Homo sapiens: one gene and its partners. The protein of the gene in region 4 purifies or fractionates together with the protein of the main gene of each other region. This does not show direct contact. Each region holds a gene or a part of one and is shown on either strand. Other genes may lie near its edges. The genes, in order: PSMC2, USP5, EEF1A1 and RAD23A.

Evidence for each region.
Region 1: the proteins of RAD23A (region 4) and PSMC2 purify together in Homo sapiens (affinity purification with western blotting; 4 studies listed by BioGRID and IntAct, with this or other methods). This does not show direct contact.
Region 2: the proteins of RAD23A (region 4) and USP5 purify together in Homo sapiens (affinity purification with mass spectrometry; 2 studies listed by BioGRID, with this or other methods). This does not show direct contact.
Region 3: the proteins of RAD23A (region 4) and EEF1A1 purify together in Homo sapiens (affinity purification with mass spectrometry; 2 studies listed by BioGRID and IntAct, with this or other methods). This does not show direct contact.

The regions. Positions count from the first base shown.
Region 1 is NC_000007.14:103,363,844-103,370,763, reverse strand, and holds the end of PSMC2 (26S proteasome regulatory subunit 7), read right to left. Parts: intron 6,622-6,920; coding exon 6,457-6,621; intron 4,689-6,456; coding exon 4,601-4,688; intron 3,352-4,600; coding exon 3,149-3,351; intron 3,052-3,148; coding exon 2,955-3,051; intron 2,868-2,954; coding exon 2,710-2,867; 3' UTR 1,369-2,709; downstream 1-1,368. UniProt on the Homo sapiens protein: Component of the 26S proteasome, a multiprotein complex involved in the ATP-dependent degradation of ubiquitinated proteins.
Region 2 is NC_000012.12:6,861,562-6,868,211, reverse strand, and holds the end of USP5 (ubiquitin carboxyl-terminal hydrolase 5), read right to left. Parts: coding exon 6,595-6,650; intron 5,743-6,594; coding exon 5,654-5,742; intron 5,068-5,653; exon of another isoform or gene 5,027-5,067; coding exon 4,835-5,026; intron 4,383-4,834; coding exon 4,239-4,382; intron 4,163-4,238; coding exon 4,017-4,162; intron 3,491-4,016; coding exon 3,337-3,490; intron 3,049-3,336; coding exon 2,964-3,048; intron 2,229-2,963; coding exon 2,135-2,228; 3' UTR 1,580-2,134; downstream 1-1,579. Other genes in the region: TPI1 (triosephosphate isomerase), read right to left, coding at 531-756. UniProt on the Homo sapiens protein: Deubiquitinating enzyme that participates in a wide range of cellular processes by specifically cleaving isopeptide bonds between ubiquitin and substrate proteins or ubiquitin itself.
Region 3 is NC_000006.12:73,518,002-73,527,638, forward strand, and holds the start of EEF1A1 (elongation factor 1-alpha 1), read right to left. Parts: upstream 3,032-9,637; 5' UTR 2,999-3,031; intron 2,056-2,998; 5' UTR 2,026-2,055; coding exon 1,882-2,025; intron 1,516-1,881; coding exon 1,336-1,515; intron 1,228-1,335; coding exon 931-1,227; intron 848-930; coding exon 697-847; intron 610-696; coding exon 353-609; intron 264-352; coding exon 29-263; intron 1-28. UniProt on the Homo sapiens protein: Translation elongation factor that catalyzes the GTP-dependent binding of aminoacyl-tRNA (aa-tRNA) to the A-site of ribosomes during the elongation phase of protein synthesis.
Region 4 is NC_000019.10:12,948,285-12,955,232, forward strand, and holds the end of RAD23A (UV excision repair protein RAD23 homolog A), read left to right. Parts: coding exon 1-74; intron 75-212; coding exon 213-268; intron 269-401; coding exon 402-529; intron 530-796; coding exon 797-875; intron 876-990; coding exon 991-1,124; intron 1,125-4,404; coding exon 4,405-4,569; intron 4,570-4,651; coding exon 4,652-4,765; 3' UTR 4,766-5,358; downstream 5,359-6,948. Other genes in the region: GADD45GIP1 (large ribosomal subunit protein mL64), read right to left, coding at 5,924-6,242. UniProt on the Homo sapiens protein: Multiubiquitin chain receptor involved in modulation of proteasomal degradation. Binds to 'Lys-48'-linked polyubiquitin chains in a length-dependent manner and with a lower affinity to 'Lys-63'-linked polyubiquitin chains.

The DNA of each region.
Region 1 (6,920 bases), on a different chromosome or scaffold from region 4:
TGTGAACCAGGGCCCAGGAAACTCCAATCTATGTCTTAGACACTGACTCTGTATTAGTATATGGCAGCTGATAATGGGATCCCAATTGCCAATCTCATCTGCAGTGGAACCCCAAGAAACTGTTAAGGGTATGGATCCTCTTCAAGCCCTGGAATAGCTCATTTTGTAGTTGCAGGAAACATCTAAAACATCCACTCTGTGTGGTTTGATCCTGTGTCCTTACCTGTTTAGCAGAGAAAGACAGTACCAGCCTCTGAGTGTACACTTTGAGAAAATGAGTCTGCTCTCTTGCGTGGATGAAGAAAAGAGAGGGTAGCAAACCTAGTGAATCTGTCCTGGGGTGGGTGGGTGTGTTTTTGTGTGTGTGTTGGGGGGGTGGGGGTGTGCCCTTGTGTGGGGATGAGGGAGGGAAGAGCAGGTGGTGGGGAAGGCTCTTTTATGTCTGCCCCTTTAAAGATAGTAAATCAATTTAAATTCTAAAATGAAACCGAACTTCCTTGGTGTGAGCCTGTATGCTTTACTGAGTGCAAAAAAATGCTATTGGTCCTTTTTAGTGCACCTTACCTTTCAGGAGTGCCTTTAGGATTCACGATGTTTAGATTCTTACTGTTTTGAATGCTCATAAAAGTTTGAGAACTATAAAAGTATTACTGAATTCTTCAAACATACAGCTAACCAAAATGCATGCAATGGTTTTGAAACCCCTCCAATCCCAGCAACACAACGGTAAAAGTTAGCACCACACCAGGTAACGTGCCTGCTTAGTGACTTAGATTTTATCAAGTTTGAGCATCTTAAAACTCCACCTGGCCTTTGAGAAAGCTGTACCAGGCTTTTCATTATACTGGTGTATTGCATTTCACTTTACGTAACAGATAAACCTCAGAAGCATCATGAAAACGGAGTTTTTTAATACACCTAATCACATTTTTAACACTAAGAAGTTTTTAAACAGGATTCTACGGTATATTTTTCTAAAGTCATAAATCCTTTGTATTCTAACTTATCAGCACCCTGACACATGTATATATATATATGTGCATCTACACACATGTATATAGACACATCTATTTTAGGTGGAGGAAGTTACTGGTAAATGTCTGTTTCATCTCTTTGAGTACAAACATGCTGACCTAGGCAATGTTGATGCTACCTGCATAAATATGCCTTGACAGAAAAACCCAAATTTTTAAAGTAGTTGATTTTACATTTGATGTGTGGCCGATTAGATTTTCCTTATGGACCTAAATTATCACGATAGTCACTCTGTATCGTTAGAACAGAGTGTGCTCAACATTATCTAATTCGAGTTGTCTTTAATTGGTATATATGAGCACGTGGCCATGACAAAGTGGAAAGACTTCAGAGTGTGTTCTAAATGTGTACATTTATTTAATCAAAACATTCAAAAACATACATCTTCAGTCATTTTCTTAAGTATATTTTATTGTAAGCATAACCTGAAAATAGTTTGCTCTATTTAATTCCTCAAGAAAAATTAGGGCAGGGTTAAAAAAGATGAATTTTTCTGATCAAGTTCATAAAAATGAAAAATCAAGAATGTTGGTTGGATTTTATAAAAGGCTTTAATTTCTTTACTTGAAAACTTTCATAATTTTAAGTATTTCAGTGCAAAGCAGCATTTTCTATGTTGTCAACTTTTTCTATTGTGAATTAAAAATATATCCAACTCTTATTTTGCAACTTATTTATGAATATCGAACTTCAATAAAAATATTCATTATTGTGCTTTGGTCTTGGCATTGGGGGAAGGGGTAATTGTGGTAGAAGATAGGATTTGGTGGTGGTTACACAGGAGGTAATTTTAAAGAGATGTTGAGGATTCTAATATAACCTTTATTTTTAAAATACCTCACTGTAGACCAGAAGCCTAACAGAAACTTTACCAAAATTTTAAAGTAATTTGTAAAATGAAAGTAATCACTTTTCTGTATGAAGCCAATTCTGGACTTTCTAAATTAGATCATATGTACAAATATTTTTTTTTCTTTTTTTACTAGTCTTTCACTTCTGGCTGAACATTTTTCTTTCTGCTTTATTGCACCACTTTACTGCTCATTAAAATCACTAATTCTTCCTGATTAATTTGAAATCAAATGGCAATGCAAAACATATACATCCAATGTTTCTCCTACTTTAAAAAAGCTTTGGCCAAAGCTTTTATTATTCAATATGGTGGTGGGAAACTATCATAATGCATGTGGTCATACGCCTAAGTGAGCTACTTTGTTGCGGGACAGAAGCGGATAATAGGAGCATAGGTAATGGAGCCAACAAACTTGTACTTGAAAGCCAGCTTTGCCACTACAAGTAAGTAGGAAAGTTTATGCATCCATTGGATGAAGATCCATTTGATAATCTTCCTCAGTGGACAGATGGGAGGATACAATGAGAATTTATATGTAGAGCACCCGGCCAGCATATGCCTAGGATAGAAGCCATCTAAGCAAGCGCTTTGTATGATGTGAAATCCTTAAACGGGTGTGGGTCAAAAAAATAGTCAAAATATATTCTAACAAGCTTTTCTGCCTAATAACATTAGAAATCACCTTTTATTATATTACAAGAAGAGATATGGAAAAAAGCATACAATTTTGAAGCCATTTATTTGTTTATGAATTGGTTATTAACAAGTCTATATAAGGTTAGGATTCCAATTTAAAGTTTTCACTTGAAAGCCTTCAGGGTTCAGTTGTATGTCATGTAACGAGGAGTAGCACTGAATTTGGCATAAGACTTAATGACCTTATTTACAGCTTCCAAGAAATCCTTCTCGGTAGCAATTTTTCGCCGTGCTCTGATGGCAAACATACCAGCCTCTGTGCAGACGCTTCTAATCTCAGCACCTTTCAAACAAAAAGAAAATAAACGGGCTTAATTAAAGCAGCCTGAGCAGACAGACCAGCAAATATAAGCAAGAACTTTCTACTTACCAGTGCTATTTGGACACAGTCGTGCTAACAGTTCAAATCTGATATCTCTTTCAACACTCATTGAACGAGCGTGAATCTTAAATATGTGGGTCCGACCCTAAAAATGAGAAAATTGACAAATATTAAAATGGAAAAAAATCACAGGAAGAAAAAACTTCAAAAATCCCTTTCCTAAAATGAAATGGTTTTCTTACCTCTAGATCGGGCAAGCTAAATTCAATTTTTCTATCCAATCTCCCTGGCCTCATCAGTGCTGGATCCAAAGTATCAGGTCTGTTAGTGGCCATCAGCACTTTAATATTGCCTCTAGGATCAAAACCATCAAGCTGATTGATCAGTTCCAACATTGTTCTCTGCACTTCATTGTCACCTCCAGCACCATCATCAAAACGAGCCCCTGAGAAGACAAAAGGAAAGATAAGCTCTTCAAGTCCACTCAAGAGTAGCACTATGCATGACCTGAAAGTACCAAAAATCTCAGCTCAAATCATGTCCTCAGGCACAAGTGACATCCCACTTTGAAGCAAATCCTGTAAGAACAGCTTGCTTTATATAAAACTAATTAGAAAGTGAATCTTTGCTTTCAAAAGTATTCATCACAGATTTACTTAACGTTTTTTAAACTGCCTATGGGGCAGTTTAGTGTTTTCAAAGTCTACCACATTTATTACTTAATTTGGACCTCTCAAAAACTCATGAAGTACACAAGACAACAATTATTCCCTTTATAAGATGAGCAAACTGAGGCTCAGAGATTAGTTAAAATAACTTGTCCTCAGGAGTTCGAGACCAGCCTGGCCAACATGGTGAAACCACGTCTCTACTAAAAATACAAAAATTAGCCAGGCATGGTGGTAGGCATCTGTAATTGCAGCTACTCAGGAGGCTGAGACATGAGAATTGCTTGAACCCAGGAGGCAGAGGTTGCAGTGAGCCAAGATCATGCCACTGAACTCCAACCTGAGCAACAGAGTGAGACTGTTTCTTAAAACAAAAAAAAAAGTCTAGATTTCATGGCTAATACTGTATTTCATCAAATCTGTGAAGCCAACAAGAACATTATTTTATGTGCACTAAGAAAAACCACCATCAATTAAATTATGCCCCAGTGCTTTCTTATGACATTAGATGATACTTCTCAATTTACGAGTTGTTTAAAGTATGGAAATAGGTGTTGTATGAATGAAATCAGATATAGACTGAGCATCCCAAATTTGCAAATGCAAAATCCAAAATGCTTCAAAATTTGAAAGTTTGAGCACCAACATGACAAAAGCAATACTCATTGGAGCACTTTAGATTTCAGGTTTTCAGATTTGGGATACTCAATCAGTATAATGCAAGTACTTCAAAAGCCAAAATCCAAAATATGTGAATTCCAAAACACTTCTCAAACATTTCGGCTAAGGGATATTCAACCCATAGCACAAAAATAAAGGCTTTGAAAAAATGACAATGGTATATAATGTGTCTTCTTGCCTTTATAGTTTAGCACTACTACTTATTAGATCTGTGGCGCCACTGTTTCAGAGCTCATAGAAGAGTTGGAGTTAAAATTCTGTACAAGATTAACATATCACGACATATCACTTTACAGCTTTCATGAAACTGAATCCTAAAGCAGTTCTCTAACGTATCATTCTCACCTCCAATAGCATCAATTTCATCAAAGAAGATAAGGCAGGCTTTTTTTGTTCTGGCCATTTCAAAGAGTTCACGAACCATTCGAGCCCCCTAATGAGAAAAATGATTTATTAATTCAAAATTGGTTTCAAAATATTTTAAAATAAGTAAAAAGTTATGCTTCAAACTTTTCAATATTTATTCCTAACAGTATTCTCACCCATTATTACCTAAACGTTTTTTATTTTTTTATTTTTTTGAGATGGAGTCTTCCTCTGTCGCCCAGGCTGGAGTGCAGTGGTGCGAGCTCGGCTCACTGCAACCTCTGCCGCCTGGGTTCAAGCGATTCCCCTACCTCAGCCTCCCGGGTAGCTGGGATTACAGGCATGTGTCACCACACCCCGCTAATTTTTGTATTTTTAGTAGAGACGGGGTTTCAGCATCTTGGCCAGGCTGGCATTGAACTCCTGACCTCATGTTCCACCCGTCTCAGCCTCCCAAAGTGCTGGGATTACAGACGTGAGCCACTGCGCGCAGCTATTTTAATTTTATTTTTTGAGACAGAGTTTCACTCTTGTTGCCCAGGCTGGTGTGCAATGGCACGATCTTGGCTCAGTGCAACCTTCGCCTTCTGGGTTCAAGCGATTCTCATGCCTCGGCCTCCCGAGGAGCTGGGATTACAGACATGCGCCACCACACCCGGCTTTTTCTATTTTCAATGGAGACGGGGTTTCTCCATGTTGGTCAGGCTGGTTTCCAACTCCTGACCTTAGGTGATCCGCCTGCCTCTGCCTCCCAAAGTGCTAGGATTACAGGCATGAGCCACCGTGCCTGGCCTATCTAAACTTTTTTTAAAAAAGACTGAAGTTTGCTCCCCAGTCCACCAAATTAATCTTGCCAGCCTTAAAATATTAAGTCATTTTCATGATTCTGTATCTATTAAATAGCAATAGGTTTCAGATCTGAAGAGGTCAAATTAATAGTTAAATAAAGGAACCATTCTAATTAGTAAAACTTGAGTAAATAAAAGCATCTGATCTATCACTTGGAATTCCTGATCATTGAATTTGACTTGCAAGTTTTAGTTAGGGAATAAAAGGATACCTCAACTCACGCAGCTCCGTAGCTAATTCTTATTGTAAATATACGAATCATCAACAGGTTTCAGATACAATACATATAGCCCTAGACTTATTCTCTAAATATATATATATATATATATATATATGTATGTCTACAAACATAAAAACAACCTATGTTCTCACTTTCTCATTAGGACTGAAAACACTGCCCCTGAAGTAAAAGTATACTTTTTAATTAATTTACCAGGCATTTCCGTAGAAAAGCCACATCTGTAGAAAATGTCACCCTTTTGAGGAGGGGGCATACTGGTTAAAATTTTAAGTGGTTGCCTATCTCCAAATGACCACAAAGGCAGCTTCTAAACTACTAATTACAATCAAGAAATTTCAGGTCTCAGGCCGGGCGTGGTGGTTCTTGCCTATACTACCAGCACTCTGGGAGGCCAAAGCAGATGGATCACTTGAGCCCAGGAGTTTGAGACCAGCTGGGCCACATGGTAAAACCCCTCTCTACAAAAAATAGAAAAATTAGCTGGGTGTGGTGGCATGTAGCCATGGTCTCAGCTACCTGAGAGGCTGAGATGGGAGGATCGCCTAAGCCCAGAGAGGTAGAGACTGCAGTGAGCTGAGATCATGTCACTGCACTCCAGCCTGGGCAACACAATGAGACTCTGTCTCAACAAAAGAAAAAAGAAATTTCAGGTCTGGATCCCTCAATGCAGAAGTGCCATTTTTAATTTCATTCATACTGTAAAATCTTTCACAAGGCTATATATTCTTTGATAAATTTACTTTACCTCACCGACGTATTTCTGTACAAGCTCAGATCCAATAACTCGAATGAAGCACGCATCAGTCCGATTAGCAACTGCCCGCGCACAGAGTGTCTTGCCTGTACCGGGTGGACCAAAGAGCAGCACGCCCTTGGGAGGCTCAATGCCAAGGTTCACAAACCTCTCTGGCTGTGATAGAGACACAATTTTCACACTTACCACTTCTGTATAACAAAAATCAGACTACTTCTAAATCAACAAAGTGCTTTTATGTTTAGTATTTTATCCTGAAAACCATACTTTAATATTTAAATCAAAATTATTAAGTCCACAATATACATACTTGAACTAAATAAGAAATTTTACTTATTCTAAGACATAAGTTCTAAACTGGACTTCTATCAATACATAAGACTAAATGGCTTTTAAAAAGCACTTCCATTATCCAGTCTTAAAATATTTTCCTAATTTAAAAAAAATTATGGTGT
Region 2 (6,650 bases), on a different chromosome or scaffold from region 4:
TGGAAGGCGGGAGTCGTTCAGGTTGCCGAAGGGAAGGGGTCAGATCTGGGGCTCAGGGAGCCCGAGCAGCTCGGCGCGGGGACGCGGACGCCGGCGAGGAAGGGGAGGAGTCTGGGGCTACGTGCGGCGGCGCACGGCGCGGGAGGCCAGGGCGCAGGGAGCGGGAAGCCCACGCGGCCCAGCCTCCCCCGGTCTCCCGCAGAGCCTCGGGCTCCGCTCCTAACCCCGTCGCCTGGCGGGCACAGCCCCAGTGCGCGCCCCGGGGCCACCTTCCTCCAGGAGACCCAAAACGTCCTTACCTGCCCCATAGTCCAAGGGGCATCATGTGCTCCGCCCTGCCCCCTCGACGCACCGACGGGGCTGCGGCTGCGAGGCCCCTGCCCGGACCCCAGCGGCCCTCGTCCCACAGCCCTGCATCAGGTCCGCGCGGATACCGGCCTCGGGGCCTCGGGGCCTCGGGAGAGGGCGCTGCCACTCCTGCCCCGGCCCCGGCCCCGGCCCGGCCAGACCCCTCCTCGGCGAGGGCTTACCGGTGTCGGCCGGCACCTTGGCCGCGTTCAGAGTGCCGATGAGCTCCCCCAGACTCTGCTTCCGCCCGTTCATCTTCCAGTTTCCCCCAACGAAGAACTTCCTGGAGGGCGCCATGGCGCTGGAGCCGAGGCGCTGAAGGTCAGTGTCTGCGCGCAGTCGCGGCCACTGCCCACTTATATAGAGCGCCGCGAAGTGGAACTCCGCCTCCTCGCCGTCCTCCGCCATGGCCCGCCCAGTCCCCCGGAGCCCTGCCCCCCGCCCGCCCTCCTGCCGCCGCCCCGGCCGCCGCCCGATGATGCACTGTTCCGACGTTCCCCCTTCTTGTGGCAACGTTCTAGGAGAGTCGGGGGCTCGGTCGCCTCCGCCTCGATTGCGGGGCTTTCGGGACAAGGCGAGACCTGTGAGCTCCGGCGCTCAGGGGAACCCTCGCTTGGCGACTTGAGTCCCCCACGGGGCCAGAAGTGGTTTTCAAGCGGAACTAGCTGGTGGCAACTTGGCCGTAGCCCAGATCGCCCACTGGGGCAGAGAGGGCCCCTCTCCAACTGTGGGATAGACAACCTCCTTCGCCCATCGGAGCAGCTCATGCCCGACTGCTGAGCAGGCACCCTTGTACCCAGGGAGTCTACCTGAGTGAAAACTTGCGGGACAAATGCAGGGTTCACAGCGGGAGGGGCAGCCCACACAGGCATAGGCCGCCAGGATCATCCCAACCCTCGCCCCGGCTGGCAAGGCCTGGCAGGAACTGCAGGGACTGAGTCCCAGCCTGAAGCCAGCTAGCCAGTTAGGGACATTTGGGAAATCCTCCACTCCTGTGTGAATAAAGAGAGGGAAGGGTTCTTCACTCCATCTTTCCTTGGCTTTGTGTCGGCATTTAGTCACTCTACTCCACCTCCCCACCCAACCCCAATTTTCCTAGAGCTCTAGAACCAGTGAAAAGTGGAGACTTGACTTTGGCAGGGAGGCGGCCAGAGTTAGGAGTTTTCTTAAGCGCCCTCCTGCTAACCCCAGGAAGGTAAGCCTCTCCCCCAAGGTATCAAACAGGACACAATTTAGCCGTTGTACTTTTATTCACATCGTGTATTTTGGCATTTTCCAGAGAAGGACAAGGAAGAGACAGGGTGGGGGAAAGACTGAGGCAGGAGGGCAAGTCGGGGGGTCCCTATTTCCCTCACATCCCTCCTTGACCAACCACACAGGGGCAAACAAAGGGGGAGGGGAGGCACAGGTGATCGCTCCACTGGGAGAGGATGCACAAAGCTACACCCACGCGCACAAACGAGACCCCTCCCTCCACACCAGGGGGCTGGGCGGGGCGACACAGAGAAGCAGAGCACTGTGGATTCCGGGGGCAGGGGAAGCAACAAAGTCTCCTTACAGACAGGTGGCCGGCCCCTCCCGTCCCCGTCCTGCTCCATCCCCAGAGTCTATCGCTGCCCCTCTGCTCTGCCCAGCCATTCTCCCACGGCCTCCAGCTTCTTCCCTGCTGCCGGGGACAAAAGGAAAAAGGGTACAGAGCAGAGGGGCTGAAGTCCATCCCTCAGCCCCTCTCCCTCATGCCAGGTGGTCTTCCCCTGCCCTCATTGGTAAGGGGTGAGGCAGGCTCTTAGCTGGCCACTCTCTGGTAGAAGTAGATGTAGCCCAGGTCCTTGGGCGGCTTCTCGGAGGCACACACTTTCTGGTCATTGTAGATCACCCATCTGGGGAAGTGGGGAAAACAGAAAAGGATGAACAAACTGGGCATTCAAAGTGGCATCATGTAGTCTCTCAGACATGGCCCCTGGAAGTGCTCTCCACACTCTCTGCCCATACCCCAAATCCACAGCCCAGCCACCATGTGCCTTAAGGGAGCTTCACAACCTCACAAGGGTCACGGACCCTATTATGTCTTCAGATCCTCCAGTACCTTTACAACCACCCTCCACCCATTCCAGGGAGGCAGGGGGTTGGTAAACTTTTTCTGGCAAGGGCCAGATAGTATTTGAGGTTCTGCAGGCTCTCTCTCTGGTCTCTGACACAACGACTCAACTTTCCTGCCGCAGCGTGAAAACAGGCACAAACAACACATAAACAAGTGTGTCCAGGTTCCAGTGAAAATTTATTTACAAAGGCAGGGGGCCTGGCCAGGCACGGTAGCTCATGCCTGTAATCCTAGCACTTTGGGAGGCCGAGGCAGAAGGATCACTTGAGCTCAGGAGTTCAAGACCAGCCTGGGCAACATAGTGAGATCCCATCTCTATTTAAAAAAAAAGCTGGTGGCCAGATCCAACCCTTGGGCCAATCACTGCTGCAAGACCTTCTGTCACTCTCTGGCACTTTATGTCCCCATCAGGCAGTCCCTTCACCTTCTCCCATAGCTATCCCAAGGACTTCCAAATGGCCCTCCTCATTCCCACCACCATTCTCCATTCAAAACGCATGTGGCCAGCACTCACCTGCCTTCTTTCTTGATGTGGCAGACGTAGTGACCACACATGGTAGAGGTGCCCATGTGACTAATGAAGGCAAAGAGCTGATACTCTAGGAAAGGAGAGAGGGGGTCAGAGAAGGAAACAGAAGAGGAATGCTTGAGTGATGGCCCAAAGATCCAGACAACAGCTCAGACTCAGGACAGGAGTTTCAGGGAATGTGAGGCAGGTACTGGGCCAGAGCCTGTCTCCATGTCAGAGAACCCCACCCTCAGATGCCACGTTGAGGTGGAAAGAAGCCCCTGACTCCTGAGGAGGGCAGAGCTGCCTGAATGAGGGATCTGGTGTAGTAGACTGACCAGATTCCACCAGGCCTGTCCTGCTTCCTGGGGATACTCACTTCCAGGACCATCCCGGACTTTAGGTCCCACTGGCACAGACTCAGAGATGGAGTCGGCAGCTGAGCGGCCCTCTGAGATGTCCATGGCAGCTTCAGCATCCAGGTCGTCAATGTGACTGAAGATCCAGTCCACAGCCCGTTCTAAACTATTGTTCTTGGAGAGGAAGGAAGCATTACTTTTTTTCTTGAGACGGAGTCTTGCTCTGTCGCCCAGGCTGGAGTGCAGTGGCGCGATCTCGGCTCACTGCAAGCTCCGCCTCCCGGGTTCACGCCTTTCTCCTGCCTCAGCCTCCCAAGTAGCTGGGACTACAGACGCCCACCACCACGCTTGGTTAATTTTTTGTATTTTTCGTAGAGACGGGGTTTCACCGTGTTAGCCAGGATGGTCTTGATCTGCTGACCGCGTGATCCGCCCACCTCACCCTCCCAAAGTGCTGGGATTACAGGCGTGAGCCACCGCGCCCGGCCAAACAGAAGCATTACATTTTTAACAAGTTCTGGGGCAAAAAACCCAGCAGTGAACGCAGGCTTCAGCTCCTTCATCGCAGCCACAAAAGAGTGGTGCCCAACCTCGGCCAGACCACACCTGTTGTCTTTGGTCTTGCTCAAGAAGGATGGCCCCTCATTCCCACCCCCTTCTTCCCCACTGGCCCCATGTCCTTAGCTGGGGCAGCCCATACCGTGGCCCGCAGCGCTTTCAAGGCCTGGTCCCGGGAGAAGCCCATGGAGACAATGGTGGTCACACAGTCCTCAGGAGGGGGGTCGGCTGCTGCGCTTGTGGAGCCCGGCCCACTAGAGCCAGGCAGGATGAGGGGGTTTGCAAAATCTGTGGATGTGAAGGGGTTGATGTGTTTGGGGGAGGATGGAGGCCCTGCCCCACCCTGCTCCCCACCCCAGCCTACCTGGATCATCCATGTGTGACATGACCCAGTTCATGGCGGCCTCAGCCCCGCTGTTGCCCGTGTAGTAGACAGCTTTGCGGCAGGCGTCCATAGGGAATCCCATCTCCACCAGCTGGATGATGACTGATTCATCCAGCATGGGCGCTGTAATGGGAATTGTGGGTACACGGACCGACTGATTGGGCCACTGTTTGCTCCTCCTCCCTCCCCCAGGACCCAGCCCTCTTCCAATCACCCATTCCATGCATTTTTCTCCCATGGATTGGCACCTTATCCCAAAACCAAAATGACCACACAATTGTAATGTGGGTCCCTGCCCATTCTCACAGAATGGGCCCTGTTTCTGGAGCATGATACCCCCACCCTACCCAAACCAGGGAGGTAACAAGGGCAGAGAGGCCACTAGCTGGCACTGCTGCCATCCACACCCAGAAGGTGGCTAGGAGTGCGCTGGGGAGGCCCCATGTCAATCAAAGAGGGCAGAGGAAATTTGAAAGGGAGGACAGGAGAAACACAAAGGACAGGGGCAGGGGATGCAAGGCAGAGAGGCCCCCATCAGCACGGGAGAGAGACAGGCAGGAAGAAGAGTCACTAACATGTCGGAGAGGAGAAGTGAGGGGAGCAGAAGGAGTCTTCGTCTTCGTTGCCATAGAAACCAAGGCTACCTTTGGGCTCATCCGGAGTGACCAGGGGTGGGGCAATGTCTGGCAGCTCCTCCTCTCCGGGCTGCAGCCCTGTGCCCCTCAACTGGGAGATGTCGAGCTCCTCTGGCATCTCGATGGACACATCTGTGGGAAAAGGGTCACCTCAGCAGCTCCCGGAGGCCTACCTGGAAAGTGATTCGGGAACCTCAATCCCCTGCCCCCTATGTCAGAACTGCTCTGTAAAGAGGAGCTGCTAAAAGCACGGCACCCATCTTAGGGGTCCCAGTATAAGACAAATAATACTAAGCCTGGGAGTTGGGAGGCCAGGATGCTGGTCCTAGATCTACCATAAATAATCTATGGACAGGGCAGGGGGCCTAGAACTTGTGAGACAGAATGATTTTATATTCCTGTGAGTCTCAACTTCCTTATCTAGAAAATGAAGGTACATCACGAGTTCTCAAATGACAGTCAGGGACCTGTAAGACTCACGAGAATTAATTGTTTCAAGATTATCAAAATGAAAACATTTTACCAATTATTTTAAAAAACTACAAAAATCACTTTTGGTTGTAAATCATACCTATAACAATCAAAGAAGTCTTTTAATATTTTTAGTTAGTGCTTTCAAACTAGATAAATTTTGAAACATTGAAGGTGATTTTTTTTCCTCTTTCAGAGGAAACTTTGAGAAACACTAGTTTATATGTGTTAAAGCCCCTTCTTTTTCTAGCATTTTCTGTGTAACCTCCCTCATTCCAGCAGCCATACCCAGTTTCTTGGGCACCCAGTCTAAGCCGAAGGTGAACTTCTTGATCTGGATGACCAGGTAGTCAGGGAATGAGGCAAATCGTGTGGTCCTAGGGAAGAGAGACTGTGCTGGTACCCAGACAATCCCCAGGGTTTTCCTCTCCTGAAACTCCCACCTGGGGTTCAGCCCCTCATGGGTAGAAGTCCCAATAACCCAGAAGATCCTCCATATTCTTCTCTTCCCCTGGGCAGGTGTCTGATGCCTGTCCTCGGCCAACGAGGAGCAGTAGAGGCCAGAAGGAAGGCTGTCAACAAAAAAAAGAAAAAGAAAAAAGCCCAGGCATGGTGGCTCATATCTGTAATTCCAGCACTTTGGGAGGCCAAGGCAGGACGACTGCTTGAGCCCAGGAGTTAAGAGACCAACCTGGGCAACATAGCAAGACCCACACGTAGGGAAAAAAACATAGCAAGACCCACACATAGAAAAAAAAAAAAAACCCACACAGAGAGGAAGAGCTGTTTCACTGGCAGGAGCAGCAAAGGGCTGGGTAGCTGACTCCCCGAGACCAAAGCCCTTTTTCAGGTCTCACACCCATGCCAGGTGCCAATGGCTAGGCTCAAAGTGTGGCTATTTGCTGGAAATCCAAATTCTGCCCACAGCTGATCCTAAGTGCCTGTGCTCAGCCATGACTGAGGGGCAATGAAGAGAGGCTACACTACAAAGAGACCCTGTGCCACAGAAGAGGGAGTGGTTGGGGCAGGACAAGGTGACAGATAGAGTCAGTACCCGTGTCCCCCCTACCAGGGCCCCTTGGTTCCATCAGGGCCAGATTACCAGCCCAACTGATTCAACCCTGAGGTTCCAACCACAAAGGGATGAAAGAACAGGGAAGAGACAGAAGTATCCTCTGGGATAGCTCTGCCATAGACCCACAGCCTCAGGCCCCGACCAGAGGACTTACTTGACAGCTACTGACTTGGCCTGCAGGGCCGTGCTCCAGAAGTCATCGACCTGCTC
Region 3 (9,637 bases), on a different chromosome or scaffold from region 4:
TTTTTTACATTTAAGTAGTCATCCTTACCCAAAGGTGGATAGTCTGAGAAGCTCTCAACACACATGGGCTTGCCAGGAACCATATCAACAATGGCAGCATCACCAGACTTCAAGAATTTAGGGCCATCTTCCAGCTTTTTACCAGAACGGCGATCAATCTTTTCCTTCAGCTCAGCAAACTTGCATGCAATGTGAGCCGTGTGGCAATCCAATACAGGGGCATAGCCGGCGCTTATTTGGCCTGGATGGTTCAGGATAATCACCTTGGAAAAAAGATTTGCATTCAGTGCAAATCCAAAGTCTCAAATGACTTTAGCCTCTGCAATAAGTTAATGTTACTTTAAATTGTTACCTGAGCAGTGAAGCCAGCTGCTTCCATTGGTGGGTCATTTTTGCTGTCACCAGCAACGTTGCCACGACGAACATCCTTGACAGACACATTCTTGACATTGAAGCCCACATTGTCCCCAGGAAGAGCTTCACTCAAAGCTTCATGGTGCATTTCGACAGATTTTACTTCCGTTGTAACGTTGACTGGAGCAAAGGTGACCACCATACCGGGTTTGAGAACACCAGTCTCCACTCGGCCAACAGGAACAGTACCAATACCTAAAAATATTTACAGCATACTAAATACCTATGAAGGCAGACAGTACTCTATCAACTCAAATTCAACTTTGTTTACAGCCAACTTACCACCAATTTTGTAGACATCCTGGAGAGGCAGGCGCAAGGGCTTGTCAGTTGGACGAGTTGGTGGTAGGATGCAGTCCAGAGCCTCAAGCAGCGTGGTTCCACTGGCATTGCCATCCTTACGGGTGACTTTCCATCCCTTGAACCAAGGCATCTGAAACACAAGCATGCCAATTTGTGTAAGCATGAAATCGCCATTCCCAGAGCTTTTTAACAATGGTCTTGAAAGCCACTTACGTTAGCACTTGGCTCCAGCATGTTGTCACCATTCCAACCAGAAATTGGCACAAATGCTACTGTGTCGGGGTTGTAGCCAATTTTCTTAATGTAAGTGCTGACTTCCTTAACAATTTCCTCATATCTCTTCTGGCTGTAGGGTGGCTCAGTGGAATCCATTTTGTTAACACCGACAATTAGTTGTTTCACACCCAGTGTGTAAGCCAGAAGGGCATGCTCTCGGGTCTGCCCATTCTTGGAGATACCAGCTTCAAATTCACCAACACCAGCAGCAACAATCAGGACAGCACAGTCAGCCTTTAAAGAAAGCAAAGACATATCCCTGTCAACTCTCCAAATGACAAAACCAGTGTACAAAGCAAGCCTTTTGGGATAAAGAAACCTAGAATTATTAATCCCACCAACCTGAGATGTCCCTGTAATCATGTTTTTGATAAAGTCTCTGTGTCCTGGGGCATCAATGATAGTCACATAGTACTTGCTGGTCTCAAATTTCCACAAGGAGATATCAATGGTGATACCACGTTCACGCTCAGCTTTCAGTTTATCCAAGACCCAGGCATACTTGAAGGAGCCCTTTCCCATCTGTAAGGATTAAGAGTCGTTACTTGGTTACTAAAACACAAACTCCAGCTTCAATTTCCTTGTCCCCAGCCCTTAATTGGCAGTTTCCACTTTACAACTCCAAGTCCAAAGTGATTTTAGTCACTTTGGGTTACAGAAGCAACCAAAAATCAAACTTTTATAAGTCGGATCTTAACTATTAACATCCAAATCTACTCACTAGCAATACGATTACAGAAGTCACCAAAAGCAAAATTATTTCATAAGTAAGGTCTTAACTATTAGCATTCAGATCTAAACCACTCACTAGTTCTGGGGAAATCACCTAATGATTCTGCTGGTAAAACTCATTTTAGTTGATCTTTCCCTTTCTGGTATTAAACATACCTCAGCAGCCTCCTTCTCAAATTTTTCAATGGTTCTTTTGTCGATGCCACCGCATTTATAGATCAGATGGCCAGTAGTGGTGGACTTGCCCGAATCTACGTGTCCAATGACGACAATGTTGATATGAGTCTTTTCCTTTCCCATTTTGGCTTTTAGGGGTAGTTTTCACGACACCTGAAATGGAAGAAAAAAACTTTGAACCACTGTCTGAGGCTTGAGAATGAACCAAGATCCAAACTCAAAAAGGGCAAATTCCAAGGAGAATTACATCAAGTGCCAAGCTGGCCTAACTTCAGTCTCCACCCACTCAGTGTGGGGAAACTCCATCGCATAAAACCCCTCCCCCCAACCTAAAGACGACGTACTCCAAAAGCTCGAGAACTAATCGAGGTGCCTGGACGGCGCCCGGTACTCCGTGGAGTCACATGAAGCGACGGCTGAGGACGGAAAGGCCCTTTTCCTTTGTGTGGGTGACTCACCCGCCCGCTCTCCCGAGCGCCGCGTCCTCCATTTTGAGCTCCCTGCAGCAGGGCCGGGAAGCGGCCATCTTTCCGCTCACGCAACTGGTGCCGACCGGGCCAGCCTTGCCGCCCAGGGCGGGGCGATACACGGCGGCGCGAGGCCAGGCACCAGAGCAGGCCGGCCAGCTTGAGACTACCCCCGTCCGATTCTCGGTGGCCGCGCTCGCAGGCCCCGCCTCGCCGAACATGTGCGCTGGGACGCACGGGCCCCGTCGCCGCCCGCGGCCCCAAAAACCGAAATACCAGTGTGCAGATCTTGGCCCGCATTTACAAGACTATCTTGCCAGAAAAAAAGCGTCGCAGCAGGTCATCAAAAATTTTAAATGGCTAGAGACTTATCGAAAGCAGCGAGACAGGCGCGAAGGTGCCACCAGATTCGCACGCGGCGGCCCCAGCGCCCAAGCCAGGCCTCAACTCAAGCACGAGGCGAAGGGGCTCCTTAAGCGCAAGGCCTCGAACTCTCCCACCCACTTCCAACCCGAAGCTCGGGATCAAGAATCACGTACTGCAGCCAGGGGCGTGGAAGTAATTCAAGGCACGCAAGGGCCATAACCCGTAAAGAGGCCAGGCCCGCGGGAACCACACACGGCACTTACCTGTGTTCTGGCGGCAAACCCGTTGCGAAAAAGAACGTTCACGGCGACTACTGCACTTATATACGGTTCTCCCCCACCCTCGGGAAAAAGGCGGAGCCAGTACACGACATCACTTTCCCAGTTTACCCCGCGCCACCTTCTCTAGGCACCGGTTCAATTGCCGACCCCTCCCCCCAACTTCTCGGGGACTGTGGGCGATGTGCGCTCTGCCCACTGACGGGCACCGGAGCCTCACGCATGCTCTTCTCCACCTCAGTGATGACGAGAGCGGGCGGGTGAGGGGGCGGGAACGCAGCGATCTCTGGGTTCTACGTTAGTGGGAGTTTAACGACGGTCCCTGGGATTCCCCAAGGCAGGGGCGAGTCCTTTTGTATGAATTACTCTCAGCTCCGGTCGGGGCGGGTTGGGGGGGGTGGTGACGGGGAGGCCGCCTGGAAGGGACGTGCAGAATCTTCCCTCTACCATTGCTGGCTTAGCTCCAAAGGTTGTATTGAGATTAGGGTGTACCTTCGCCTCTCAATCAGCCTCCCGTCCTCAGCCTTGCCATCTCGCTAGTCCGGGACAAATCCCTAGAGCGTCTTCCTCTGCGGGTCTCAGCCCAGCCCGGGGTTGGCTCCTCCTCCGCCCCGGCTTCCGCGCCCCTCCCGTGTGGCAAGGAGTACCAGGCCCGGGGACCCCGAGGGGCTTGGGGCGAAGGGTCGGGACTGGGGGCCTCCTTAACGGCTCACGGACTTGCGAGAGGTTCGGCTCGATGGCCGTGAAAGCGACGAATCCGCTCCTGTGCTGGCCTCTTGGCTCCTTCCATTCAAAGCCAGCTGCTTTTATGGAAGCCCGTAACACGTCATCTCCCCCTGGTACTCCAGATGTCCAGGCTTTCAGTTTAGAATAGACTCAGTCCTACAGTTAGCTTTAGATCTAATTCTAGTTTTGTTACGCCAAAAAGTTCCTGCGAGTGTGTGTGTGTGCCTCATGGTACTTTTTAAATTAAAAGGTGTACAGTTATTTGATTGCAAACATAAGGAACCTAAAATGCTTTCAGATTTTCCACATGATCTCATGTAGAGGCTAAGATCTACAGCATCAGCAAGTTTATCCACCCAGTTTCCTAACCCCAACACTTGCTATGAAGTCACAGCTTCTCCTATTTAAATAAGTGCCTATTATATTTAAATAAGTGCTGTCGTTTTCTGTCATCCTATCGATTGTAACTGCATTTTAGCATAAATCTAGGGCAAGATTGGATGAGCTTGGCCTTTTTGGATGGCTATCAAGGCAGGCCTTGGGAAATGCTCCTCTGAGGAAAGAAGAACGTTTATTTTTAATGAGCTAATTACTAGATCATTATGTTTCTTCTTCCAGCTGTAGAATATCATTGCCCAGCTTCTCGAACAAACTTATTTATTAACAAGTATTTGAGAACCTACTATGTGGCCAACGCTAAGTACTGTGGAGTTCCTTCTGGAGAGGAAACCACAATCAAATTGGAAGAGGAAAACAAGTTGGGAAGCAGTTGAAGGCAAACGCTATGGTGCTTTCTTGGTTTCTGTATCTTTGTAGTGTAGTTTTTCTAGTCCTTTCAGTTTTCACAGTCCACTTTTTTTTCTTTCTTTCTTTTTTTTTTTTTTTTTTGAGACGGAGTTCTACTCTGTTGCCCAGGCTGGAGTGCAGTGGCGCGATCTCGGCTCACTGCAAGCTCTGCCTCCCGAGTTCAAGCGATTCCTCCTGCCTCAGCCTCCCAAGTAGCTGGGACTACAAGCGCGCCCCACAAATTTTTGTATTTTTAGAAGAGACGGGGGTTTCACCATGTTGGCCAGGCTGGTCTCGAACTGCTGACCTCAAGTGATCCACCCGGCTCGGTCTCCCAAAGTGCTGGGATTACAGGCGTGAGCCACGGTGCCCGGCCACAGTCAAAGTTTTTCCTCAAGCCCCTGTGATTGCGGATAATAGTAAACGCTTTATAAATACCTTACACAGAATGTTTTTTAAAATATCACGCAAGGAATGACAAAATTACATGAATCCTTGATTTATACCTAAGTAACATATTGTGCAACACAGACTGGGTGTTCTGAATGTTGCGATAGTGGCCGAGACTTTCATTAGGTGAAGGGAGATCTCAATTCTCGCGTTTAAGAACCAACACTGGACCGGGCGCGGTGGCTCACGCCTATAATACCAGCACCTTGGGAGGCCGAGGCGGACGTATAATTTGAGGCCAGGAGTTCGAGACCAGCCTGGCCAACATGGTGAAACCCTGTCTACTGAAAATACAAAATTAGCCGGGCGTGGTGGCGCATGCCTGTAATCCCAGCTACTTGGGAGGCTGAGGCAGGAGAATCGCTTGAGCCCGGGAAGCGGAGGTTGCAGTGAGTCAAGATCACGCAATTGCACTCCAGCCTGGGCGACCGAGTGAGACCTTGTCTCAAAACAAAACAAAAAACCAATACCTTTGAGCCCATCGGAGCCATATTATTGTGCGTTAGGGGTAGTCACTGGCCACGAGCATTTTCTCAGGGCAGAGATCACATTTCTGCTCTCAGTGGGGCCGGGGTGGGCCGGAAGCCGGAGAGGGACTGGAACGCCGGTCCGGGGAAGCCCCGCGCGCACCGGGGCGCACCCTGCTTCCTAGGGAGGGAGGCTGGGGCGGCAAGGCGGGCGCGGGTGGTCCTTGCCCCGCGCCAGCTCGCCAGGCCACGTCGCTGGCGTTTTTCCAGCGCTGGGTCACCTGCGGGCCGGCGGGTTCCCGCGGCGAACAGCTGGGTGGTATGGATACGCCGCTCGAGCCTCCGCAGCGTCAGGTCGCCAGGGTCCGCCCTGCCACTCGCCCCACCTTGAGGTAACTTTTCTTCCGCCTTCTGACTGCGGAAGGAAGGGCCTGGGAGGAAGCAGAAAACCTCACGTGGCTCGGGGTGAGGGTCGGTTTTTGTCACCGTGAGCTGGCCTCTAAAAGACTTTTTAAGTCCCAAGTCTTCTTTTTCTTCTTATTTTAAATCCCTTTTTCCCCAGACCCTATGTTTTCAACATAATCATAACGGATTCCCCGCACCCCTACGCCTTTACAGAGATCCAGTATGCTTTTTACTGCCTTAAATGTTAAAGCGGTAACAGTAACGATGTTGAGGCTCGTAAATGTGTTTTGGGGTCATAATCTAAGGTAGTATTTGCTGAAGATTTTTCTTAAACTTGCTCATAACCATTTAGAGTGACAAACTTAAAATACATTGTAAGTAAAAATCAACATGACCCCTTTTAGGAAGAAAAACAAAGATTTCAGTTATTTACATAGGAATAAGGCAAACAAGAATAGTTCTTTGAGGTACTTAATTGTGATTCACCAAGCTTTCAGTATAGTCTGACCACTCTGCTATTAGTCTAATTTAAAGCAGCCTTAAATAGTTACATTTTACCATGGCTTGCCACGTGAAAATGATTTTTAAATCTTTTCATCTGCTGTAGCTACCTCTGAAGAAAAGATGATGGCCCGGTGCGGTGGCTCACGCCTGTAATCCCAGCACTTTGGGAGGCCGAGTCAGGCGGATCACCTGAGGTAAGAGTTCGAGACCAGCCTGGCCAACATGGTGAGACTCCCGTCTCTACTAAAGATATAAAAATTAGCCAGGCTTGGTGGTGTGCACCTATAATCACAGCTACTTGGGAGGCTGAGGCAGGAGAATTGCTTGAACCCGGGAGGAGGAGGTTGCAGTGAGCAGAAATCGTGCCACTGCACTCCAGCCTGGGTAACAAAGTGAGACTGCATCTCAGAAAAAACTATATATATATATATATATATTTTTTTTTTTAAAGGGGTATTTTAGAATATGATTAAGCCAAGGAACTATTTGGACTGAGAATCCAATTTTTTTTTTTTTTTTTTTTTTTGAGATGGAGTCTCACTCTGTCACCCAGGCTGGAGTGCAGTGGCACGATCTCGGCTCACTGCAAGCTCCGCCTCCCGGGTTCATGCCATTCTGCCTCAGCCTCCCGAGTAGCTGGGACTACAGGCGCCGGCCACCACACCCAGCTAATTTTTTGTATTTTTTTTAGTAGAGATGGGGGTTTCACCATGTTAGCCAGGACGGTCTTGATCTCCTGACCTCGTGATCTGCCCAACTCGGCCTCCCAAAGTGCTAGGATTACAGGCATGAGCCACCACGCCCAGCCGAGAATCCAAATAAAATGACACTTTAGTGTGACAGGCACTGTTCTAATATTTGCAATATTTATTGTAATCCTACCACCCACATTGTATAGATGGAGCAGCAATGGGCAACAGGCAGTTTATGCGTAATAAGCACATATAGACATATATTCTTTTTTAAAGTTTTACCTTTTTTTGCACAAAATGGTAAAATACAATATGCCACCTTGCTTTTTTCACCTAATACAGCTTGGTGATCTTTTTTCATGGTACCTTAGGGCCCAGCAGAGCAGGATTGGAACCAGGGTAATCTGTCAGAGAGCTAGTCCTAACCCTTACCAGCAGGTCGAGGCAGCCTGATATAATGAAAATATCAGTGGCATCGGTGTCAGAAAATTAGGGATTTAGTCCTCGCTCTTCTGCTTAGACCTATGACAGCCCAGCAGTTCTGAGTACATCTGTGAAATGGGTTGCCTCTTTGTTCCTACTTAACACCTATGTCACAATTCTAATATGCAATGACATGAAAAGACATGGGGGCTCTTTATTAGTACAAAAGACAGTGTTTCTACATGCTTTTTGGAGAATGCCTGTCCTTAATTGGTATGCCTGTGACACCAACTTGAGTCAGTAGAGAAAATAAACTCATTGGTATCTTTGTAATTGTAAGCATTTTTACGTAGGTAATACATGTACATGGTAAGAAATTGTACAGAGGTTATACAATGAAATGTTACTCTCATTTTAGCAGTGTAAAGAAAGTCTGAAGAATACTCCAGGAAAATTGAGGAAACTAAAGCTATTTCTACTACTGGTCTCATAATTGCAAAGCCAGTGCCTACCATGATAAGTGCTCTCTTACTTGGTATGAAGGAAATGATTTTCTTCCCTTGCTATTTTTTTTAGTAAGTATATTATTTTATTGCTACATTAGAAATGAAAATACACTCTGAGAAGCTGCAAAGGCATGCAACTTCATAAAGATTATGAAGCAATGGAGACACTCATAGAAGGTTAAAATTGGCTTTTCCTGTAGGAGGTGCAAAGACTATACACACACAGGTCATCAATGGTTAGATTATTGGCAGCATCTGCCATGTGGAATTTATGTGCCAATGGGAAGATTTTTGGTGTTTTGCTTTGTTTTGTTTTGTTTTGAGACGGAGTCTTATTCTGTCACCCAGGCTAGAATACAGTGGCATGATCTTGGCTCACTACAACCTCCGCCTCCCGGGTTCAAGTGATTCACCCGCCTGAGACTTCCATGTAGCTGGGATTGCAGGCATACACCACCATGCCTAATTCATTTTTTTCTTTGTTTGTTTGAGATGGAGTCTCACTCTGTCACCCAGGCTGGAGTGCAGTGTCATGATCTCAGCTCACTGCAACCTCCGCCTCCCGGGTTCAAGCGATTCTCCTGCCTCAGTCTCCCGAGTAGCTGTGACTACAGACATGTGCCACCACACCTGGCTAATTTTTGTATTTTTAATAGAGACAGGGCTTAGCCATGTTGGCCAGGGTGGTCTCGAACTCCTGACCTCAGGTGATCCACCCACCTCAGCCTACCAAAGATTACAGACGTGAGCCATCATGCCCAGCCCCCATTATATGATGTTTGAACACCGTATTTCTCCTGCTGGATAGTTTCCTTGGAAGAAAGCCTATTTTTTTCTCCAGTGTTAGTTTTCTTCAATTTTGACCTGTCAAACTTCACTTCTGACAAGTTTGGGTTTATCACTCATCTTGATTAAAAGAAAGCCTGAAGGCTTGAAGACTCGTGAAACGCTGGGCTGAGACCATACTGCTCACTCTGGACCAGATTAGGGTTCCTGAGCAGAGCCCAGCAGTTGTAAGCCCAGTAGCAGGGCCCCCTCACTCAGTATTCATTTGTGAATCCATATTTTATAAATCATATGAATTTTCAGTATTTCTTTGTCTTCATAGGTGATATAGTTAACAGAGCACTTGACTAAGAGACAAGCTGGAATATATTCGTAGTCCCACATAATTTCTTTATCAGAGTGATCTTGAATAAATCACACTTGAGCTCATTATTTCTTTTTTTTATTTTTATTTTTTGAGATGGAGTCTCGCACTGTCACCCAGGCTGAAATGCAGTGGTGCAATCTCCGGTCACTGCAACCTCCGCCTCCTGGGTTCAAGTGATTCTTCTGTCTCAACCTCCCAAGCAGCTGGGATTACAGGCGCCCACCACCATGCCTGGCTAATTTTTTTGTATTTTTAGTAGAGACGAGGTTTCACTATGTTGGCCAGGCTGGTCTTGAACTCCTGACCTCATGATCTGCCCTCCTCGGCCTCCCAAATTGCTGGGATTACAGGCATGAGCCACCACGCCTGGCCTGAGCTCATTATTTCATAGTAAAATAATCTAACATCTATTTCATAGAATTGATCATAAGGATTAAATAAGATAATGGACCAGATGATGCAAACCATTTTTACAAATGTCAGCGCTCATTATACTTAGAAAATAATCATTA
Region 4 (6,948 bases):
CCACCTGCCGCCAGAGAGGACAAGAGCCCATCAGAGGAATCCGCCCCCACGACGTCCCCAGAGTCTGTGTCAGGGTAAGGCGGGGGCAGCAGTCCCAGCTTGGGCCCTGTCCTCCTAGCACATTCCAGCGTCCACATAAGTGGTCCCACACACCTGGAGGGAGGGCAAGCCGCCAGAAGCCAGGGTCCGATTTCTCTCTCTTGAATTTGCAGCTCTGTTCCCTCTTCAGGTAGCAGCGGGCGAGAGGAAGACGCGGCCTCCACGCTAGGTGGGTGGGTGGTCCCCAGGGCAGAGGTGACTGGGTGCCCCAGCCATCAGCTGGGCCTTGTCTGGGTGCGGGAGGGCCTGGGAGCTGCCCTTTCCTCTTCCTGGTGACCTAGGCTTTGCTGCTTCCTCCACAGTGACGGGCTCTGAGTATGAGACGATGCTGACGGAGATCATGTCCATGGGCTATGAGCGAGAGCGGGTCGTGGCCGCCCTGAGAGCCAGCTACAACAACCCCCACCGAGCCGTGGAGTATCTGCTCACGGTGAGGTGGGGCTTCCGCCTCCCGGGGAGGCCTTGAGGGAGTACCCGGGCGTCACTGCCCTGATGGGCGGTTGGGAAGGCAAAACCTGCCCTGAAAAGCCTTTGGGTAGTGATTCTAGCCACTAAAGGCTTCCCACAGGAGGCTGGATGTGAGTGATGGGTGGGCCTCTGGAGGGCAGGGCCGAGGCCTCATCTGTGTCCTGCCAGGGCATGGAGGAGGGTGGCAGCAGGAGGTCTGTGCATTAGAACTAAACAGGACCCCTGACAGGGAATTCCTGGGAGCCCCGAGCCGGAACACGGTTCTGTCCAGGAGAGCCAGGTATCGGAGCAGCCGGCCACGGAAGCAGGTGGGTGTGCACATGCCGCATCTGCCCTCCAGGTACCTGACTCACATTACACTCCACCCCGCAGTGCTCCTAGGAGCCCGGCGTGGTGTCTGACTGCACCCCTTCCTACTACCAGCAGGAGAGAACCCCCTGGAGTTCCTGCGGGACCAGCCCCAGTTCCAGAACATGCGGCAGGTGATTCAGCAGAACCCTGCGCTGCTGCCCGCCCTGCTCCAGCAGCTGGGCCAGGAGAACCCTCAGCTTTTACAGGTGTGGTCCCAAGGGCAGAGGGAGCTAGGGCAGCCACCATTTCCCTTCCCTGTGGGCACCAGAGTCCATAACACGTAGGAATCGTTCTAGGTCCGGAAAGCAGGACTAAGCACATGCTTCCCCCACGCCCCTGTGCTTCCTGTGACCTGGTGACCCCCCTGGTTTCTCAGTCTTCCCAACCACCTTGTAAGGTGTGGGTGCTGTCAACATCACCTCCCACAGAAGAAGACACCGGAAACTTAGAGCAGCCTGTCATTCCCAGGGTCACGCAGCTGGTAGTGTGTGTGTCTGCCTCCTGCCTCGGGGTGGGGTCCTGGGCTGGGGCTCTGGCTTCACATACAGATGGTGCTGCGTAAATGTCTGTAAGGTGGCATGACGTCACCCAGGACAGCTGTGCCCCAGTTGGCTCTGGGACAACTCTGCTCAGTGAGGCTCCATCTTGCCCTTGAAGGTTCACAGGAAGAGTGGGGGAGTGGCCCCCTGGGTGCAAGTAGGTTCCTCTGGGTTCTCGGTGAAGTGCCTACCGGTCTTGGCTCAGGACCCTGCTGTCTGACCCTTCTCCTCTCACTTCTCAGTCCCTTGCCAGCTCCTCCTGGTCGGTCGTGTTCTTCATCTGCACTCAGCCCTCCCTCATAGTGTCCTGGGGCCTTCAGTCTGTATGGGAACCCCCAAATCTATGTAGCCAGCCCAGGCCTCTCTGAATGCCACACTCCATGGCTGGCTTAATTAACTCTCCATCAAAGTGCTCCCTAGACTAGACGTCTAAGACTTAGAACAGACCTCCCCAGTCCTCCCCGATCTCTGCAAGGATTAGCTTGGGGTTGCTTCAGCCCCAGGCCCTGGGGATCTGCTGGGGTCTACCCCTTGTCCTGTCTGCTCTTCCCACTCAGCCCCTCCCTGCACTCCAGCTCTCTGGTAGCCTCTTCCTGGGCCTCTGCCACTGCATAGTCCCACAGTCCACTTTTCAACCATGAGGCAGATGACTAAAAAGCACTTTCTTTTCTTTTTTTTTTTGAGAGGAAATCTCGCTCTGTCGCCCAGGCTGGAGTGCAATGGCGCAATCCCGGCTCACTGCAACCTCCGCCTCCCGGGTTCAAGCGATTCTTTTGCCCCCGCCCGAGTAGCTGGGACTACAGGCGCCCGCCACCACGCCTGACTAATTTTTTGTATTTTTAGTAGAGATGGGATTTCACCCTGTTAGCCAGGATGGTCTCAATCTCCTGACCTAATGATCTGCCCGCCTTGGCCTCCCAAAGTGCTGCAATTACAGGCATGAGCCATCACACCTGGCTGACTGAAAAGCACTTTCTTCTTTAATGTGAAAATGATCAGATGCATACAATGGTAGAGTTATATCAGAGCTTCCAGATACCCAGGTAGGGCACAGTGGCTCATGCCTGTAATCCCAGCACTTTGGGAGGCTAAGGCAGGCAGACCACTTGGTCAGGAGTTTTAGACCAGCCTGGCCAACATGGCAAAAACTCGTCTCTACTATAAATACAAAAAGTAGCTGAGCATGGCGGCAGGCCACTGTAGTCCCAGCTACTCAGGAGGTGGAGGCAGGAGAATCGCTTGAACCCAGGAGGCAGAAATTACAGTGAACCGAGATTGCCCCACTGCACTCCAGCCTGGGTGACAGAGTGAGAGTGTCTCAAAAAGAACAGAAACAAAAATGAACAAATGAACTTCCAGATACCTAAATCCAACACCCAGATGAGTTCACTTTTTTTGGTTTGGGGGCTGGTAGGTGGGAATAGAGACAGGGTCTATGTTGCCCAGGCTGGTTTTGAACTCTTGGGCCCAAGCAGTCCCTCCTGCCTTGCCTCCCAAATTGTTGAGGTTACAGGCGTGAGCCACCACACCCGGCCAAGTTCACCTTTCTAAAAGATCCACAGACCACGTCTTTTCCCATGTAACTGTCACCACCGTGGCTTCCCCCTGCTCTAGAAAATGGGTCTGACTTGGGCCTTCCTCTCTGGTGTCATTGTCTGCCTCCTCCCCCTTCCCTTGTTCGCTGTTTTTTGTTTTTTTTGTTGTTGTTGTTTGTTTGTTTTTGAGATGGAGTTTCGCTCTTGTTGCCCAGGCTGGAGTGCAGTGGCGTGATCTCAGCTCACCGTAACCTCCGCCTCCTGGGTTCAAGAGATTCTCCTGCCTCAGCCCCCAGAGTAGCTGGGATTACAGGCATGTGCCACCACGCCCTGCTAATTTTATATTTTTAGTAGAGATGGGATTTCTCCATGTTGGTCAGGCTGCTCTCAAACTCCTGACCTCAAGTGATCTGCCTGCCTCAGCCTCCCAAAGTACTGGGATTGCAGGCATGAGGCACCGTGCCCAGCCCCATTCACTCTGTTCCTGCTTCTGTTTCTGAGACTTCCCAGATGCATCCACCCTGGGCCTTTGCACTTGCTGTTTGCTTTACCTGGAGGAAACCCTCTGCATCCGCCATACTGCAGGCCTCTCCACCAGCCCTCATCTGCAGTTCCTTCCTAGCCAGACACTTGCAGTTGTCTGGTTCATTTATTGGCTCACTCACTTATTTTTTGAGAGTCTCTTGCCCAGGCTGGAGTGCAGTGGCACAGTCTCGGCTCCCTGCAACCTCTGCCTCCTGTGTTCAAGTGATTCTCCTACCTTAGCCTTCTTGAGTAGATGGGATTACAGGCACGTGCCATCACACCCAGCTAATTTTTGTATTTTAGTAGAGACGGAGTTTCACCATATTGGCCAGGCTGGTCTCGAACTCCAGGCTGGTCTAGAATCACCTGAAGTGATTATAGGTGTGAACCACTGCAGCCAGCCTATTTATGTATTTATTTATTCAAGACAGGGTCTTGCTCTGTTGCCCAGGCTGGAGTTCAGTGGCTTACTGCAGCCTCCGCCTCCTGGGTTCAGTCTTATGCCTCAGCCTGCCAAGTAGCTGGGATTACAGGCGTCTGCCACCACACCTGGCTACTTTTTGTATTCTTAGTAGAGATGGGGGTTCACCATGTTGGCCAGGCTGGACTCGAACTCCTGACCTCAAGTGATCCACCTGCCTCTGCCTCCCAAAGTGCTGGGATTACAGGTGTGAGCCACCGTGCCCGGCTTATTTCTTGGCTCACTTAAAAGCACATCATCAGCTCTTCCAGGGTAGGGCTTGTGTCGACTGCTATGTTGTGTTTGGCCAGAACAGGCTCCTCTGGATATTTGCCTGACTGAATGAAAAAGCAAGGGCTGTGATGACCTGGGGAGAGGAGGGGACCAGGGCTGTGAATTACCTTCCCTTCCCCACCCTCTCCTGCAGCAAATCAGCCGGCACCAGGAGCAGTTCATCCAGATGCTGAACGAGCCCCCTGGGGAGCTGGCGGACATCTCAGATGTGGAGGGGGAGGTGGGCGCCATAGGAGAGGAGGCCCCGCAGATGAACTACATCCAGGTGACGCCGCAGGAGAAAGAAGCTATAGAGAGGGTAAGAGGCCTGGCTGAGGGGTGACTGCAGGTGGGCAGGACCCCTACCCTCTCCTGCTCACACTTAACCTATCTTCCCACAGTTGAAGGCCCTGGGCTTCCCAGAGAGCCTGGTCATCCAGGCCTATTTCGCGTGTGAAAAAAATGAGAACTTGGCTGCCAACTTCCTCCTGAGTCAGAACTTTGATGACGAGTGATGCCAGGAAGCCAGGCCACCGAAGCCCCCACCCTACCCTTATTCCATGAAAGTTTTATAAAAGAAAAAATATATATATATTCATGTTTATTTAAGAAATGGAAAAAAAAATCAAAAATCTTAAAAAAACAAGCAAACAGTCCAGCTTCCTGTCCTCCTAAAGTGGCCCCTGTTCCCATCTCCCGGGCCAGACAGCTGTCCCCCCGTCCTCCTCCCCAGCCCAGCCTGCTCAGAGAAGCTGGCAGGACTGGGAGGCGACAGATGGGCCCCTCTTGGCCTCTGTCCCAGCTCTCTGCAGCCAGACGGAAAGGCGGCTGCTTGCCTCTCCATCCTCCGAAAAACCCCTGAGGACCCCCCCCCATCCTCTTCTAGGATGAGGGGAAGCTGGAGCCCCAACTTTGATCCTCCATTGGAGTGGCCCAAATCTTTCCATCTAGGGCAAGTCCTGAAAGGCCCAAGGCCCCCTCCCCAGTCTGGCCTTGGCCTCCAGCCTGGAGAAGGGCTAACATCAGCTCATTGTCAAGGCCACCCCCACCCCAGAACAGAACCGTGTCTCTGATAAAGGTTTTGAAGTGAATAAAGTTTTAAAAACTAGCCCTATGGTCTGTGCCTGCTGGGGCTCCCCGCGCCCACCTGTCTGGGTCTTGGGGGGCTGGCTGGGCACAGGCAGGCATGGTGACGGGTGCCTGGAAGGGGGAGAGGAGTCTGTGAGTCCCTGCAGATTGAGGCTTCCGGTGTCTCCTCCCCCAGTGTGTCATTTCCAGGCAGTGGACCCCAGCCCAACGTTACAAGGACTGCTTCTCCCCGGCCCCCACCATCATCACCACAGTCTGTTTTGGCTATACTTCCCCCCCCACCAGCCTTGTAATTGGCTAATTACTGGAGATGAATGTTGGTAAACAGAAGCCTTCTTCTCTTCTGCCATCTGCTTCTCCATTATTTGCCCATTGTACACCCCCCTTTTCCTCCCACTGAAGCCCCAGTTAGTCAGCAGGGCCTAGAGTCCCTGTCCCCTTTTGAGTACAGCCAAGTGGGGGATTCCCCAGCTCTTAAGTATTGGGGGAGGAACCAGGGGACCCAGAGAGGCACACCTTGAGAGGACGCAGATCTCTTCAGGGGTACTGCCAGGTAGCAGGCTTTATTGGGAAGGGACAAAGCCTCAGGAGCTGGGTGCCCCAGAGGCTGCTGGGTCTTGAGCCACAGCTGCAGCCAATGCAGCAGCTCGCGCCTCCTTCTTCCGTTTCTGTTTTTCCTCCTTGAGGCGCTTGCGCTCCTTCTTCTCTAGGTCCTGGAGCAGCTCCTGGAAGCGGGCACTCCTTGGGTCCACCTGGTAGCCCAGGAGCTCCTGGGCCTCAGCCTGCAGTCGGGCCCTCCTCTCCTTGTCAGCCTGGGCCTTCTCCCAGTTCTCCCGCTGCTGCTGCTGCCAGTTCACAATCATCTGTGGCATCTTGGCCATGCACTCTGCGATGTGCTGCTCCCTGCAGGGGAGGGAGAGTGGGCTGTGACACTGGCACTCAGCCAGGGCAGAGCCCACCCACCCATATCTCACCCATAGGCCTTTGCCCACGAGCCTGCCTCCTCAACTCCCCCAGTAGATTAACTGTCAGGAAAAGCCCTTGACAAGTGAAGAAACAGGAAGAGATGATGAGAAAGTTACCTGTGCATGAATTTGATCACAAGGGCATGTCAAGCCCCAGTAAACCCCAGGTGCCAAAGCCAAATCAGCATTTCACTGAGCTGCCTACTGAGCAAGCCAAGTGCCACTCCCATGGATAATTTCACACCTTTATTTCATAGACATTGCTGAGCACTTCCTGTACAGAGGCCAGGCCCAATTCTAGGCACAGGAGTGAAAGCAAGAAAGACATTTCCCACCAATCCTTGAGTTTGTAGCTACCAGTCACAGCCCCATTTTTTTCTTTTAAGTTCAGGGGTACAAGTGCAGGTTTGTTACGTAGGTAAACTTGTGTCATGGGGTTTTTTTGTACAGATTTATTTCATCACTCAGGTATTAAACCTAGTACCTAGAGGTCATTTTTCCTGATCCTCTCCCTCCACCCTCCAAAAAGCCCTAGTGTGTGTTGCTCCCCTGTGTGTCCATGTGTTCTCATCATTTAGCTCCCACTTACAAGTGAGAACACGTTGTATTTGGTTTTCTGTTCCTGTGTTAGTTTGCTAGGGATG